Regions from separate parts of the Homo sapiens genome. Here region 1 is linked to region 2. The links come from fine-mapping of genetic effects on gene expression. A gene starts in region 2. The other region holds a variant in brackets. All regions are shown on one strand. Distances are between the middles of the regions.

The links. PIP is the estimated chance that this variant, and not a neighbour inherited with it, causes the effect.
Region 1: its variant is fine-mapped to the expression of FLVCR2 in whole blood (TOPMed, PIP above 0.99).

Annotation. Positions count from the first base shown.
Region 1 is chr14:75,613,773-75,616,679 of GRCh38, reverse strand. All of the region lies in intron 1 of FLVCR2 (FLVCR choline and putative heme transporter 2), which reads right to left. Among named protein-coding and RNA genes, the nearest start is that of FLVCR2-AS1, 36 kb to the right of the region's middle. The variant C/T (reference allele first, on the strand shown) is at 1,163.
Region 2 is chr14:75,577,443-75,580,349 of GRCh38, reverse strand. It overlaps FLVCR2 (FLVCR choline and putative heme transporter 2), which reads right to left and starts at 1,730. Exons shown (of 10, transcript NM_017791.3): 1 at 709-1,730. The coding sequence starts at 1,377. FLVCR2-AS1 (FLVCR2 antisense RNA 1) reads left to right here and starts at 762. Exons shown (of 3, transcript NR_110552.1): 1 at 762-2,573. RefSeq lists a silencer at 1,785-1,854 and an enhancer at 2,565-2,624.

The DNA.
Region 1 (2,907 bases), 36 kb before region 2:
CCCTAGGGCTGGGCCCCAATTTGCTCAAACCAATTGGCTCATTCCTCTCCCCTGGGCATAATCACTGGGTATGGCTGGACATGTTCCCTTAGATTTCAGAGCTCTCAGGAGCTATCTTCCTAGTGCTGAGTCAAAAAAGTCCATACTCCATAAACATGTAAAATGCCATGTATCAATTAAAAAATATATATATGTATGTATCCCTTTATTGAGCCAGCTGCTTTCTTTGCACCAGAGTCCCTGAGGCTGAAGGCTTCCATCAAATTTGGTCCCTTTATGACCTAATCTGGGGCTTGCCTCATGCCCATGCTATGCTATTTTTATTTTTTAAATTAAAAAAAATTTTTTTTTTTTGAGACAGAGTCTCACTCTGTCGCCAGGCTGGAGTGCAGTGGCGCAATCTTGGCTCACTGCAACCTCCGCCTCCTGGGTTCAAGCAATTCTCCTGCCTCAGCCTCCCAAGTAGCTGGAACTACAGGATCATGACACCATGCCTGGCTGATTTTTTAATTTTTTGTGGAATTGGGGTCTCTCACTATGTTGCCTAGGCTGGTCTCAAGTGGTCTTCCCATCTCAGCTTCCCAAAATATTGAGATTACAGGTATGAGCCACCATAACTGGACTTACGCTATTTTTTTTTTTTTTTTTTTTTTGAGATGGAGTCTCACTCTGTCACCCAGGCTGGAGTGCAGTGGCACGATCTCGGCTCACTGCAAGCTCCATCTCCCGGGTTCATGCCATTCTCCTGCCTCAGCTTCCCGAGTAGCTGGGATTACAGGTTCCCGCCACCACATCTGGCTAATTTTTTTTTTTTTTTGTATTTTTAGTAGAGACAGGGTTTCATGTGTTAGCCAGGATGGTCTCAATCTCCTGACCTTGTGATCCGCCCGCCTCGGCCTCCCAAAATGCTGGGATTATAGGCATGAGCCATGACGCCCAGCCGGCCTTATGCTTTTTTAAATGAATCTCCCACTTCTCCTTTCTGCTTCAACATTCCTCAGAGACATCATCATACTAATATAGTGCTTAAGGGCTCAGGGTCAGGGGTCAGAAAGATCTCAATTCAAATCTCGGCCCTACCAGTTACTAGAGCTTGGCAAGTTAATTGACCTCTCTGTGTGTTTCCTAATCCACAAGAGGAAGAAAATACCACCTAGCTCAT[C/T]GGGCTGAGGCTCACTCCCTGTCTGCAGGGTTGGCCCTTTCCCACACACTCTCACACAGCAGAGGTGACAGGCAGCAGAGGCCACTGGGACTCCCAAGATGCACTTGGTTTATTTGGGGAAGTCATACAAACCATCATCCTACCCTGGTTCTGCTTCACTTCCTTCTCTGGCTCCATCTGCGTGTCCTTCCTCAATTATCTTAGTCATCTTTGACTCTGCCCTCTTATATGCACTTCGTCTCAGATCCTCCCAAACCCTTCTGCAAAGTCCTCTTTGAATCTGCCCTGTCCCACTTCGGACCTTTCTGCCTTTCTCCCAGGCAACTGTGATCTCTCCTCTGCCCGACCTGCATGATGTACTCACATTCATGGTCCTTGGCGTTGCATTGACCCCACCGTCCCTGCTTAAAGAACTTCAAGGTGTCAGCCCTCTCAGAGGAAGGAAGCAGGTCCAAACCCCTCAGCTACTGTTCTTAGCCATTGATTTGGTTTGGCTCTGTGTCCCCACCAAAATCTCATCTCGAATTGTAATCCCCATGTGCCAAGGAAGGGGCCTGGTGGGAGGTGACTGGATCATGGGGGCAGTTTCTCCCATGGTATTCTCATGGTAGTGAGTTCTCACAAGACCTGATGGTTAGAAAAATGTTTGACAGTTCCTCCTTCAGACGCTCTCTCTCTCGCTCTCTTGCCTACCACCATGTAAGATGTGCCTGTTTCCCCTTCCACCATGATTGTAAGTTTCCTGAGGCCTCCCTAGCCATTTGGAGCAGTGAGTCAATTAAACCTCTTTTCTTTATAAATTACCCAGTTTCAAGCAGTTCTTTATCACAGCGTGAAAACAGACTAATACAGCTGTCTTTGCTAGTTTCAACCTTCCTTTCCAGACCCTTCTCTTCTGTATCCCTATAAATCCCCTATATTCCAGCCAGATTGAACAAGTCATGATTCCAACCTTCCCATCATCTCGTCTATACCTTTATCCCAAGTTATCCCCTTTTTAATCTTTCAGAGCCCATCACCATGTGAATTCTCTCACAGAGCTTTCCTTGACGATCCTCACTAGGCGTGATTGCCTTGCTCTAACTTCCTCTAATCTTTGGGTTGTCAGTCATTTTCCTGATACTTGCTAGTCTGGCGCTTACTCAATACATGGTTGTTGAAAGAATGAGCTGCAGTTAACTGGCATGTCAGGAAAGCACCATTGCCACTGCACATTTGTCATGTGAGCCCAGAACTGTGGAAAGATGTGGTTGGAAATTTAAGTCTAGACAAGGTTCTCAGAGAAAGTTTGATACTTTAAAAAGCATGGTTGAGGATCCTTTTAAAATAAGAGCCTCATAAAAGATACATTGAGGTTCAATCTAGACTTTCACACATTGGATTACTGTAAGCCCATCAACCCAAATGAGCAATTTTAAAGCATTCAGTATGATGCTGTCCTTGCCAAAGGATGTTTTACATGATACAGTTATTAGGTAAATGTGTATATCTACATACCTCTATGCACACTACCAATGATTTTATGGCCTAAAGATTAATCTGAAGTTAAGTTCACAGAGTAGGGCAGCTGAGGAAAACTTCAGCTGCACAGACAACTTGGGAGAAAGTGTTACTATGTAAAGGGGCATGATGGGTTTGGATGTTGTCCCCTCTAAAGCTCATGTTGAGGCTGGGTGTGGTGGCTCATGCCTATAATCCCAGCACTTTGGGAGGCCAAGGTGGGTGGATCATTTGAGGTCAGGAGT
Region 2 (2,907 bases):
TCACAACCTGCCCAGCTTTCTGGATCATAACCACATTGAGATGCAAAGAATTTGAGCTTCTCCTTCCAATAAGAAAGAAAGAGAAAAAGATTAAGACATGAACTACCCTTTCTAGGCCATGGAAACTCAGAGTGAGATTTCTACTCCATCCTGCTGGACTTGGCTCTAAATCCCAGGCAAGGAGTTTGGCACAAAGCACTGCTCCCACTGTCCTGGCTTCAGCTGTGTGTAAAACAAGGTAAAAGCAGTGCCAAACACCACCAGGCATGGCTTTGCAATTCTATGCAGTAGAGGAGATACTGCACTCTAGGAAAGCTGGTTGGTCCAACTGAAAGCACTGCCAAGTTCTGATGACACCAGAATAGTCTGATGCCCAGGGGCTGCTGCCAGACAGAAGAGCATTCCTGAAATTACAGGTCTAAGTTGGTGGACTGACACAGGTTCGAGAACGACACAGCGAAGGTATAGTATGTTCTAGAAGCATGCTTTTGGCTGGGGCAAGAGCAACTGTGGATGAAAGAGCAGGTCCCCCTGCTTTTGTTTCCCGCCTCTCTTACAGCATCACAATCACTGCCTGTCACACCCAGTTACTGTCACCCAGAGTCACAAACACTGTTGGACAATCAGCAAATTATAGCCTACCACACCCAATAGTTAGGTGCAATCTAACACACGCCCCTGGGAACATTCACAAACTGTTCTACCTACCTGATTGCCAAAGACAGCCACGGAGCAGGCTGTTGAAACCTCATTAGCCCCGAACCAGACGGAAGCGATGCGGGAGGGCATGCCCAGGATGAAAACCTGGGCCACAGAGCAGATGAGCTGGCCCACCACGGTGACCGGAAAGAGATGCGGCTTCAGGCTGCCCAGCTTCACCCAGGCCCCCAGGCAGTTGAGAGCCGAGCCAGTGAGAGCAATGGTGCGCAGGCCGAACTTCTCCAGCAGCCAAGCCACTGGCAGGAGCAGAGGGATGTAAGTCAGCATGTAGCACATGGACAGCCAGTCAATGGCAAAGGCACTGACACCGTAGAAGTGCATGAAGATGTTATTGATGGAGCCGTACTGGATCCACTGAAAGGAGTTGCACATGGAGTAGCAGCTAAACACCAGGACCACGGCCCAACGGCGCCTGCTCACCTTGATCACGCTGAGGTCCTCAGGGCCCGAGCTACTGGGGTGAGCCAAGCCACTGGGTTGGGCTAAGGCACTGGGGTGGGCCGAACTGCTGGGGTGGACAGAGACGCTGGGGTTGATGGAGACGCTGGGATGGACCGAGACGCTGGGATGGACCGAGACGCTGGGGTCCGCTTGGAGTGCGGACTCCGGCACAGGGGTGTCATCGCTCTCTTCCTGGTTGGGACCTTCATTCACCATCGCCACAGTCTCCTCTGGAATCCTGGAGAAGTGGTGAGGACTCCGGCAGTCTTAAGGGACAGTGGCCTCTGCTGGTCTCTTAGAGTTGAAAGGACACTTGCCTATTCCAGAAGAAACAGAGACTAGAGGCTGCGTAAAAGCCTCAAGTGGGGCTTCCTGTGCTCACCTCCAAGCTCCTGCTCCCACTTTTGCTTGGGGCTCTCTGTTGCCACCCGCGGCGATCGCTGTCCCAAGGCCGGCCGCACACGCCGCAGCCGGCTCCGGACCGCTCCTGCCTTGGGTCTCCCCACGAGGCGTTCCTTGTGCAGGAAAAGTTCTCTCCTTGCGCAGCCACTTCGCCCGCAGAGTCCTCTCCCGGGCCAGCTTGGGGCCTCGCCCAGTCGGGCACACGTGACCGCCCCGCCCCCGTCCTGCCTGGCTTCTTCCGCCCCCAACCCCCCCGCCACCACTCCACCCCCGACCCAGTGTCTCTTGCCTTCTCGAGCCCGGTCCTCCGGGCAGAGCAGTTGTTTCGCCACAGCTTGCGGGATGCATTCCTCCCCCACGCCCCGGGCGCCATGGAAACCGCCCGGTTAACCCCCACCCTTTGCACTGCCCCTCATATTCATTTGCCACCCGCTATCAGCGGACCCTGCAAGAAGATCCGCCTTCCCGAAGTAATGCCCAAAATAGAGCCTCTCCGGTGCCTGTCCGCATGCCCTGCGCGCGTGCACCAAAGCCCGGCGCCACCTAAGTGTTCTGGGGAATTCAAGAGGGATTCCCCAACTTTCTCCCCCTTGGCTTAGGCTCCCAGCCCTTTGCTGAACTAAAGAGAGATTTGTAGATTTCCCGGGCTGGTTGCGCTCCTGGGTTAAAGGGGAGTTACAGAAAACTCGCTTTACTCGCTTCTTTCCCTGCGGACGTGGTTTTGTCTTGGGGAGGTTAGATTTGAACCTGTTATGTGGGGCTATTTTTCCTGATGGATTCTGGGCGAAGACCCTAGGGTGCGGGGGAGGGAAAGGAGAGTTTGAAGAAGCCGAAGAAGCTGTCCGCGGTTGTGTGATGGAACGCTTAGCACAGAGCTGGCTCCGGGCTTGGTCTTGGAAGCGGTCTTTGAACTCAAGCAGCCCTAGTCTGCCACCTGCCGGTCCTAGCCCATTTCAAAGGGCAAACCCTCGACTCGTTGCACTGACCTCTGTCCTTGGCGAGGGATCCTGGTAAGGAGCCCAAATTCTCCCTGAGTTCAAACACCAGCTTAGCTACAATGAGGTGCCACTGTAGACCAAGGAACTCCACCTCTCTGCGCTTCAGTTTCTTCATCTGTAAAATGGAAATGATGAAATAATAGTACCTACCTCACCGTGTTGTTCTGAGACTTGAATGAATTAATACACGAATGCACTTAGAAAATTCCTGCCACATAGTAAGCATTCCGCGAATGCTGGCTATCCTAGCAAAAAGCTAACATTTGTTGTACAGTGCTAAACAAATTGAATGCATTAGCTCATTTATGCATCACAAGAATTCTGTGATAAAGTTACTATTGCTGGC